Linked DNA regions of Homo sapiens: region 1 is linked to region 2. A link means that fine-mapping ties the variant in region 2 to the expression of a gene that starts in the linked region. Tissue or cell type: lung. Region 2 holds a variant in brackets; the other region holds the start of a gene. All regions are shown on one strand. Distances are between the middles of the regions.

What was found. PIP is the estimated chance that this variant, and not a neighbour inherited with it, causes the effect.
Region 1: it holds the start of ERC1, and the variant in region 2 is fine-mapped to the expression of ERC1 in lung (TOPMed, PIP above 0.99). The same link has a PIP of 0.9 or more in monocytes.

Annotation. Positions count from the first base shown.
Region 1 is chr12:988,255-993,479 of GRCh38, reverse strand. ERC1 (ELKS/RAB6-interacting/CAST family member 1) reads right to left here and starts at 2,257. Exons shown (of 19, transcript NM_178040.4): 1 at 2,158-2,257. It also overlaps a transcript of RAD52 not described here. RefSeq lists silencers at 1,443-1,737, 1,943-2,452, 2,473-2,582, 2,993-3,042 and enhancers at 1,741-2,302, 2,864-3,426.
Region 2 is chr12:1,048,180-1,053,404 of GRCh38, reverse strand. All of the region lies in intron 2 of ERC1 (ELKS/RAB6-interacting/CAST family member 1), which reads right to left. Among named protein-coding and RNA genes, the nearest start is that of ERC1, 60 kb to the right of the region's middle. The variant T/C (reference allele first, on the strand shown) is at 2,326.

The DNA of each region.
Region 1 (5,225 bases), 60 kb after region 2:
TTTTGAAAAATAAAATGTAGGCATAATTTCAGGCACAAGAAATGCTAAACGAAATAGCTTACTTTTACCTTAAGACTTTCCCCAAATTATGTGATTTCATTCCTACAAGGACAAGAATCACAGCTTACTACCAGCCATGCAAATGTCATTTTAGGAGTACACACAAGTTTTACCCAGTATCTTAGTTCACATTTGTCCCAATTAATTAAGTCTATGTATAATTTAAAAGCGAAAACTAGATATGTCAATTTTGTTTTCCTTCTAACTAATCCAAAGTCAAAACTGTTCACTTTACCAAATGAATTAACTGAATACAGTTAATTAAATCTTTTATTTATAATTAAAAATTGGAACACACACTTTCTCACTTAATACCTATTATGTCCTGTTTCCCATACCTCTCTATAAAGTAGAAGTATTTGCTGGAAGACAATAATCTGCTCATTAAGTAGGCACTTAGAAAAAGCAACGATCTGCAACTACTGAAATTCTTATCTGTATATTTCTCTTTTGGGTTACAAGAAAGCACTTCTCTGGCTATTTTCCCAAATAAACTAGGCAAGCCTTGGGAAAGTCACTGCTTAAATCCCACTTTCTGACAGCTTCTCTTCCTCCATAAATGAATTATTGAGAGCCATGTCTACTTCCATCCATTACATAATACATGTCCATCATGGGACCTGTTTTCTGAACAAGAAATAGCTTAAATGACACTAACTGATAAGTAGGGCCAGAGAATACTGTAATCTAACAGGGAGCAAGAATCCAGAAAAGAAGATTCTGATTTACAGTGCTAAGTTGTGAAAGAGTGATGTGAAGAACATTGAACACTGCTTACTCTAATATTTCCATACAAAGTGACACACCTGCCCCCAAAATGTTTTTAAAGCACTTGACTCCAAGAACATTTCTCAGAAATTGAGGAGCCTACCAAAAAAAAAGAGTTCCATTTCATTTTAAAGTGTTTTAATAAAGACTGCAAGAAACATAACTGCAAATGAGAAATAAAATTTCAACAATTTAGCACTGAACACAAAATGTCTAAAAGTCAAGGTGTACTGAGCAAGCAACACGCTATAAAAGACGGTTGTACTTTAAAACATTTAAGCATTTTTCATATAATTAGCTCCAACAGAACTATTCCAATTGTTCACTTTATCCACCCAAAGCAGTCAACCACAACCACCTGCAACTATTATTCAGCAATGTGCCTTCCAAAGCAACCACCTGAGTTTGGGGCCTTCTCTCAAGGGGCCAGGATAAAGCCTGTAAAAGGGTGGTATAAAGAGATCTTTTAGGCATTGGGGGGAAAAAAAACTGGAAGACACCACCTTGAAGGAGCTAAGCGTAATGCGACCCAAATGGTGGCTGCCGGAACGAAGTTGTCTAAACCGAAGATCTCCCTCTTCTTCGGTGTAAAACTTTCAGATACATCCACGCTCACAATTTACCTGAGCCAAAGTAAGGGGATTCTCTTCCCTCTCCGACCCCCCACCCACCCCGCCAGAAGAAAAAGAATCGAACCCTAAAGTAGAAACGTGAGATCTAGTGCAATAAAATAGGTTCTGCAACTGCCTCAAAGGCAACATGCACAGCTCATCGTCCTTTTGAAATACACTTCATCTTTTATCTCACCATTTCATCGAAAAGAAAAGAATCATCTTCAGCATTTTACATCACTCACCTAACCCAAAGATCCACCCTGACCGCACCCCAACCTCATGGCTCCCCAATTTCTCCGTCTCCCCACTACCTCGTCCGCGGCTTCACTAGTCCTAAGCCTCCCCCCCTCCGCTCCCCAAGTGCCCAGAGCCCCAGTCCCCACTCCCCCACCTCCCGCCCCAGGATCCCCACATCTACCGCCTCGGCTCCCGCCCGATCCCGGAGCCCGGCTGGGTGGAGCCCGCGGGTGGGCGCCGGTGGTCTGGGTGGGGCCCGCCCCTCCCCACCCCCCGGGCTGCCGAGGAGGGGGAGGGGGTCGCGAAGCCTCACCTACAGCTCCGCCCCTCCCCGGGGGCGCGTTGCCCTGCCCAGCCCAGCCCGGGCCGTGAGCAAGAAGCTGGGTAGGAAAGGCGAAAGCCTCAGCACTAGCGACAGGGGGGAAGCTCTGGGTCCCGCGCGACTTCCGCGCTGTCGCCGCCGCCGCGGCCGTCTCACCGTCCTCAGGGCTGCCGCTACTGCTGCTGCTGCCGCCCAGGCACCGCCGCCGCCGCCACTACCGCCGCCGCCGCCGCCACAGCACGGCCCAGGCGCCCGCGACGTCACCGCGCCCCGCCCCCTGCGCGAGACACCTAGCCCCGCCCCCAGCCCCGCCGCGGGGCGCAGCGCGCCTCCCCGGGCTCCCGGCTCGGCTGCCTCCCTTTCCCTCAGCCTCCCGGGAGCGTGACGCGGCGGCCCGGGGGCCTCCGGGCGCCTTCCGGGGCACGCGGGTGAGGAACTGGGAAGCGGGGGAAATCGGCGCCACGGCGGTCGATTAGCACCGAAACAGAGTGATGGGCGCGGAGCGTCCCTGCACACACACACACACTCACACACACACACACACGACCCCTGCGGCCACGGGAGGGGAGAGCCGGGGTCGGCTCCGCGAGCGCAGGGTGGCGCTTGTCTCCTCCTGCTTGCCGTAGGAAGTGGACGCTGGAAGCCCGAGGAGCCGCTTCGTGTCTTCCCAAACCTAAGCGGCGCCCCACCCCCTACTTCTCGTGGCCCGTTACGCCCGGGGCAGCCAAGCGCCGCGGGAGCAGCGCCGGGATCGACCCTGGCTGCTGGGGGGACGCTTTGTCCCAAGAAAGCTGGTTTTTTGCCCCTTAGCTTCGTGGAACGCGGCCGCGAAATTAGTGGTCTTCTGACCTGAGACTCGCGGGGCTGCGCACACGGGCATCGCCGAGGACCCCAGCAATGGACGTCGTGTCTGTGGTGATCCCGCCAGGACGCGGGGAGCGTGGGCGGAAATTAGTGTCCACGTTCCGACCCTGCGCTGTGCCAAACGCTGCTTCGGGAGCTGTTTATTTAGCCTCCGACAGCTAAGCGAATCGGCGGGCGGCTGGGGCCTGGTGCAACCCGATTTTCTCGTGCAGACTCGCAGCCGGCTTTGGTTTTGTTTTTTGTTTTTTGTTTTTTTTTTGGAGCCATGCAGAGGGTAGCTACAGCCATTAATTTAAGGATGTAGATAAGCTATCTCTAAACCAAGAAAGTAAGAATGGTGTGAATTATATTTATTCCCAGCCTTCCAGTGTTTATTAAAATAATTTTCGGTGTCCTTGAGAGGAGTTAAAAGCCATCATTTTACTCCTGCTTACCTCCGCCACCGTAATTAACCACTTTATACTGCCTCATAATCCCATTAACAAATTGCAGTCGCTCCTCAGCCTTCACATTCATTCACTCACCAGTTTCTACTGTTTCATCCTGCCCGGACTCTTAACTGTTCCCTCCCAGGATCGACATGCACTTGGATCATTGCAGTTTCTGGGCCTGCTGTCATCTCCCCCTTCAGTACTTCCCACATATGACTACCAACTGTTAGACGATGTGCTGCTGCCAGACCAGCCTTTCATTTCTTGGACATCCGGCTATTTACCCAGGAAAAGTCATCCTTTGACTATTTTTCATGACCTTTCTCATCTGACTCGTGATCTGCCCATCTTGTTACTCCCTAGCAGTGTGGTAAGGTAAGAGAAAATTCAACTAGGAGTCAATAGATATTTCTGTTCTCATTCTCCCACTGTCTACTTGTGTGGCCTCAGGCAATTCATTCTACTTGTGGTCTTACTTAACTGTAAAGTGAGGTTTGAAGTAGGTGTCTGAGATACATCATGTCCTTAAAATATGTGGATCTGGAGAATTAAGTTGCTAAGCGCTATGTTATACACGGAAATACTGTCCTAACACAGATTCAGATTTTTGTTTTTTATTTTTTGCCACCACACTGGCAAAAAATATTATTTCCTGCCCTGCTCCAGTTATCTTTTTTAAAACCTACGTTTAGGATTTTTGATTAAAGCTAGCTAACCGAGCACATGTATTTACTGTCTCTTCTTCCTGAGACCCCATAAAATGATGATAAATAAAAGTGATACAAAATAGAAAATGAGAAGGGGGACATCGGAAGATAATTTTTTTTTATTTGACATGCAAAAAGTAAGTGTGGTCTGACAAAATAAAATGGAGAAAAGCATAATGTAGAATGGGTGTAGAGGGTGCTGTAGAAAGGAAGGGGACCTGTCAGCCCAGAAGTGCTTTAGGGAGACGGAGATTTGGAGATAACTACCAGACAGAGCAAGAGTGAGAAGCAGAGTTGAGACCAGGGAGACTAAATAAAGGTCTATATAAGGAAGAGCAGAACCCTCCCTATATCTCAGATACAATATCTAGGCATTTATCCAGGCTAAAATTAAGCACTCTGATAATCTGGGGAGATTTGGGTTAACTGAGTATTGAAGGGCCTAAGAGTAAAGTATTCTTTATTCTAGCACAATAGCTGGTTTCCTACCCACCCACTTTAAAGTGTAGTTGGGCAAGTTGGCAGGAACTTCCTGCTATGGTTTGGATATGGTTTTTTTGTCTCTACCAAATCTCATGTTGAAATTTGATTCCCAGTGTGATAGTATTGGGAGGTGGGTCCTGATGGGAGGTGTTTGGGTCATGGGGGCAGATTCTTCATGAAGGACGTGGTGTCATTCTTACAGTAGTGAGTTCTCACACTTGCGAAACTATGTTGGTTATCAGGAGAATGGATTTGTTCCTTGGAGAGTGGTTTGTTGTAAAGCCAGGACTCACCTCGGGTTTGATTTCTCTTTGCATGTGCACAGACACTTTTCCTTGACCTTCTCCGCCATGTCTTGATGCAGCACAAAAACCCTCACCAGAACTGAGCAGATGCTAGTGCCTTGCTTCCTGTACAGCCTGCAGAATTGTGAGCTAAACAAACCCGTTTTCTTTATAAATTACCCAGCTGCAGGCATGCCTTTATAGCAACATAAAATAGACTAAGACACCTCCCAAGTTCACAAGACTCCCCATCAGCATTCCAACTGCCTCATACGTATGAACAGACAACTAAGTGTTATTAGGTATTTAAGAAAAGTCTCCAACATGGACTGTGGGGGCAGATAAACAGAAACTTCAGAGAATTTAGAAAGGAAAACCTAATTAGTATACTAGGATACTCAGATGAAGTAACAATCCAAGGTTTAAAAATAGATCTTGAAATTTAAAATAAATTG
Region 2 (5,225 bases):
CTACCTGACAAAACTAACCTGGCTGGGGTGGGGTGATCTCCTCCTGAATGAAGCACATATTTAATGCATAACGAAAAGCTAGGCAAGACTAACGAAAGCTACTTGAATTGTTCCATAGTCAAGTTGACAGTCCTGAATGTAAACTCAATGTTTGCTGAATAAATAATACCCATTAATACTTTTTCCCTCTTGATCTATATCAAGCATAGGGGAAACAAGTCATTTTAGAATTGAACAAGCGTTTTAGAATTGAAAATAGTATTTTCACAACACTTTTAAATTTTTTATACCATACATAACAGTTTACCCTTCCCCTCCCAAGTTTCTAGATATAGAAATAAATTCAACTTATTAATTCCATGAACTATTCAAATAAACTATTCAAACAGAAAAACAGGATAAAATGATTGCAGCTGACAATTTTTTTTTTTTTCGAGACATAGTTTCACTCTTGTTGCCCAGACTGGAGTGCAACGGCACCATCTTGGCTCACGGCAACCTCCACCTCCTGGGTTCAAGAAATTCTCCTGCCTCAGCCTCCTGAGTAGCTGGGATTGCAGGCGCCTGCCACCATGTCCGGCTAATTTTTGTATTTTTAGTGGAGACGGGGTTTCACCATGTTGGCCAGGCTGATCTTGAACTCCCGACCTCAGGTGATCCGCCCTCCTCCGCCTCCCAAAATGCTGGGACTATAGGCATGAGCCACCGCGCCTGTCCGACAATTTCATTTTCAGATACGTAATACTTTTTAATGTTTTTTCTCAGATGGAGTATACAATCTAGACTGTACTGTTTTTCTTTGCTTTTCTCATTTGGTTGCCTAAAAGACTGATGAAACAAGTTAATGGAGCACTATTTTCTCTTCGGTGTTATAGCTTAACCTAAAGAGCACTTATCTCAAGCCCAGAAAAGTTGTATTTTTTTATTCCTTGTACTCAAAAGTGTGAAATAAAACACAGCGGTTTATTATCACCAAAAAGGCAATATTTATTCATAATTAATATTTATCCACACACCCATTAACATTTACTAATTCTAGGTGATGGAAACACAGGTTTGTGTTTACGTAATTATTTTTAAAGTTCACTGGATATATATAAAATACACAGAGACAATAAATGTCAGGCTAATGTCCTAAAGTTTTCAGCTTGGTTAACTAGATGAGTGTTTCAAGTGTTGTTCCCTGACCAGCAGCAGAAGCATCACCTGGGAAATTAAATCTTGTGCCCCACCCCAGACCTACTCGATCAGAAATTCTGAGGATGAGTCCCAGCAATCTGTGTTTTAACAAACCCTCCAGTTAATTCTGATGCACACTTACGTTTGGGGACTAGCTGACAATTTAAAAGCTCTTGCTATTCATCAAGAACAGAAAACAAGAGAAGCAGGCAGGAGCAGAGGCGATCATAAGGACACGGTGCCTTAGTGCTTTATTAATTCACACTATTCATCAAGAACAGAAAACAAGAGAAGCAGGCAGGAGCAGAGGCGATCATAAGGACACGGTGCCTTAGTGCTTTATTAATTCACGCTATTCATCAAGAACAGAAAACAAGAGAAGCAGGCAGGAGCAGAGGCGATCATAAGGACACGGTGCCTTAGTGCTTTATTAATTCACCTTCTTTTCCTCTCCCCCTGCCCACATCCCCCAGGTGGTCACTGTGGTGTTTTTCATTCTTGTTATAAGAGACAGGGTCTCGCTCTGTCACCCAGGCTGGAGTGCAGTGACAGGATCAGGACTCACTGCAGCCTCAACCTCCTGGACTCCAGCAATCCTCCCACCTTAGCCTCCTGAGTAGCTGGGATTTGCAGGCACCTACCACTGTACCTGTCTAATTTTTCTTCTGCCCTTTTTTTTTTTTTTTTTTTTTTTTTGGGGTAGAGACGAGGCCTTGCTATGTAGCCCTTGCTGGTCTCAAACTCCTCGCCTCAAGTGATCCTCCTGCCTCGGCCTCCCAAACCACTGGGATTACAGGCATGAGCCACCATGCCCAGCCAGTCTTCTTTATTTCTAATTATACCGAGATAAGTGTATTTTAGTATTCATGAATTTATGCTTCTTAGTCTAACTGCATTATATGCTTTTTAACCTCTAAATCCTCAACCCAGAATATACATTACGATTACCTTAGGAGAGTGTTTTAAAAATCCTGATGTCCAGGTTGTAGCCCACACCAATTAAATCGGGGGATGGGGGCTGACCAAAAGTATTTTAAAAATGCCCCAGATTCCAAGTGTGCAACAGTAGCTGAAAATCATGCAATCTAAGTGAAACTTTTTGTCTCTAGTTCAATATTTCTCCAAGTATGATGACAAAACTATCTG[T/C]ATCAGAATCGCTAGTAGTTCCCAAAATGATATTAAAAATAATCTTCAGAGTGGTACATATATGACTTTTTTTTTTGAGACTGAGTCTCACTCTGTTGCCAGGCTGGAGTGCAGTGGCACAATCTCGGCTCACTGCAACTTCCGCCTCCCGGGTTCAAGCGATTCTCCTGCCTCAGCCTCTCTAGTAGCTGGGACTACAGGAACGCGCCACCACGCTCAGCTAATTTTTGCATTTTTTTGTAGAGATGGGGTTTCACCATGTTGGCCAGGATGGTCTCGATTCCTTCACCTCGTGATCAACCCGCCTCGGCCTCCCAAAGTGCTCGGCCTGACCTTTTTCTTAATAGTTATGTATTTACACTTTCATTTTTTATTTTTTGGCAAATGTTTTCCACGTGTAGTAGTGACAGTTTCATTTTAAAATAAGATTCAGTTTTTTAAAATGAGTCAATTTTTTAAATTACTAAATAAATAGAACAAAGAATAGGGAAAACACTGAATAGATGGTAAGCAAACAAAAAAGGTTCAGTTAACCTTCACAAATACAGATTCCTGAGCCTTCCCCCAGCAGTCCTAAACCAGAAACTTTGGGAGGGATCCAGAAATTTTAACAAGTGCTCACAGGTGATTCACATATAGTAAAGCTCATAGTGCTGTAATAAAGAAAATGCTCTAATAAAGAAAAATTGAGCCTTCTGCCACTAAGCAAAGAACAAGTTTGGGTGTAAAAGGGAACCTCTCATTCTATCCTGTTTGCTACCACCACTTCCCTGTCTCACACCTCCTGGGTCAGGAAGAAGTACAGTTTCTGCTTCAAGTCTTAGATCTTATCCTGACGTCCTGTTCCATCCTTTCTTTTTTGGCCAAGTCCCAAAATCCAGGGCTGATCATTTTGCTCTCTTCTCAGCCCTCTCGTTCTCCTTAATGCCATCACAGAACGGGTATCCCCACCCCAGGAGGTTGTGGAACAACCTCTTGTCCCACATCCATTTGCTTTTCCAGCTACCCTCTGAAGGCAATTCTTTTAAAATGTCATTGGCCGGGCGCAGTGGCTCACGCCTGTAATCCCAGCACTTTGGGAGGCCGAGGCGGGCGGATCACCTGAGGTCAGGAGTTTGAGACCAGCCTGGCCAACATGGTAAAACCCTGTCTCTACTAAAAATACAAAATTAGCCGGGCATGGTGGCACATGCCTGTAAATCAGGAGGCTGAGACAGGAGAATCGCTTGAACCCGGGAGGTGGAGGTTGCAGTGAGCTGAGATCGTACCATTGCACTCCAGCCTGGGCAACAAGAGTGAGACTCCATCTTAAAAAAAAAAAAAAAAAAAAAAGATCACAAAACACTGGTAAATCATCCGATGTTACTTGTCATTTGTCCTTTCAAATTCCAATGATAACCAACCTCTATCCATTCAAACTGCAAATTGTTTATATATTGTGGCATGGTTAGAAAATCCCCTCACTAGACTGAGGATGGCAAATACATTTCAGTTCACACTACCAACTCTTATCCATTTGTAGTAGCCAGTGGTTCTCAACCAACCTTGACTTCACATTAGAATGACCTGGGGAGATTTTTTAAATCTCCACAGCAAGACCACCCCCAAGCCCAATCAAATCAAATTATCTGAGGGTTTGGGTGAGACTCAGGCATCAGGTTTTGGTTTGTTTGTTTTTTAAGTTTCTCAGTGATACCAATATGCAGCCAAGGTTGAGAATCACTGATCTGGGTTCAGCTAGAGATGTTGTCAAGAGAGATTTAGAGATGATCTGCCATGAGCAGGCAACGTTTTTGCCAATCCTGCACTATTCACTCAGGCAAGTACAGCAGACTCTGACAGAACAGTGACTTCTGAGGACAGAAATGTCAAATTCCAGTATCAATGACGGTAATGCGCAAATATTTGTTTACATTTATCTTGGGGTGTTTCTTGACAAAAACATAAAAAAACAATTTGCTTACTCTGGCCTGCCAGGTTTTTTTAAAAAACCAAACACCATACTTCCAAATATGCACAGTAGCTTTATGAAATTAAGCTGTCTCAGATACTTATAATTTTCAAGAAGGCCTAAGATGGTGAAATTTATAACTTATTTAGCTGAATCTACTCAAGGGGAGATCCGAAGCAAGAGAGTTAAAATAGACAAACACTACTGTCTATAGGTACCACAAAGCATATGCAATCACAAGTTCAATACCACACATCACAAACAATTCCAACTGTTTCTGTGATCAGAAGTCTCTGTGATACAGATCCCTTTCGTAATTATATTATACTAGTGCAATTAGAGCTACTCATTCAATGTCTTGCACAGACTATAAATCTTTGAGTATGTGAAATTCAGATTTAAAAATCTATTTTGTAATAAATTTGCCACCAAAAAATTTTTATAATACAACATTAAGGGAAAAGCATATTCTAAAAAGTAATAAAATTTAGCTTTACTCTTGATGTGACAGAGAAATAATGTTTAATTTTAGGAAGCACAATTTTTCTAATAAATGAACACTTGGCACAAAGTATCGCAATTGTATCCACTTCCTGCCATAAATGCCAGCAGCAAGTACCTCCTGTTTCAAGATCCTCTGAAGCCAATGAGTGGGCAGAACACAACCAGAGCCAAAATGGGGAACACATGGTATTCGCTCTTTGAAAAAAATCAGCAGTGGATTACAACCAGGAGGGGAAGCCATCTGTCACAAGAAAAAGAGGTGGCAGGAGCTGTAACATGCCATCTCAACCTGCACAGTCACATTTTAGATTTTAACCCTTGTAATGAACGATAGGTTTCAAAATTATGAGTGTCAAGGTTATGGATGGAATGGGAAGAGGAAGAAAAACCACTAACACTGTAATTCTACTAATACCATAACCCTATCCCATACTGGGAAGAGCAA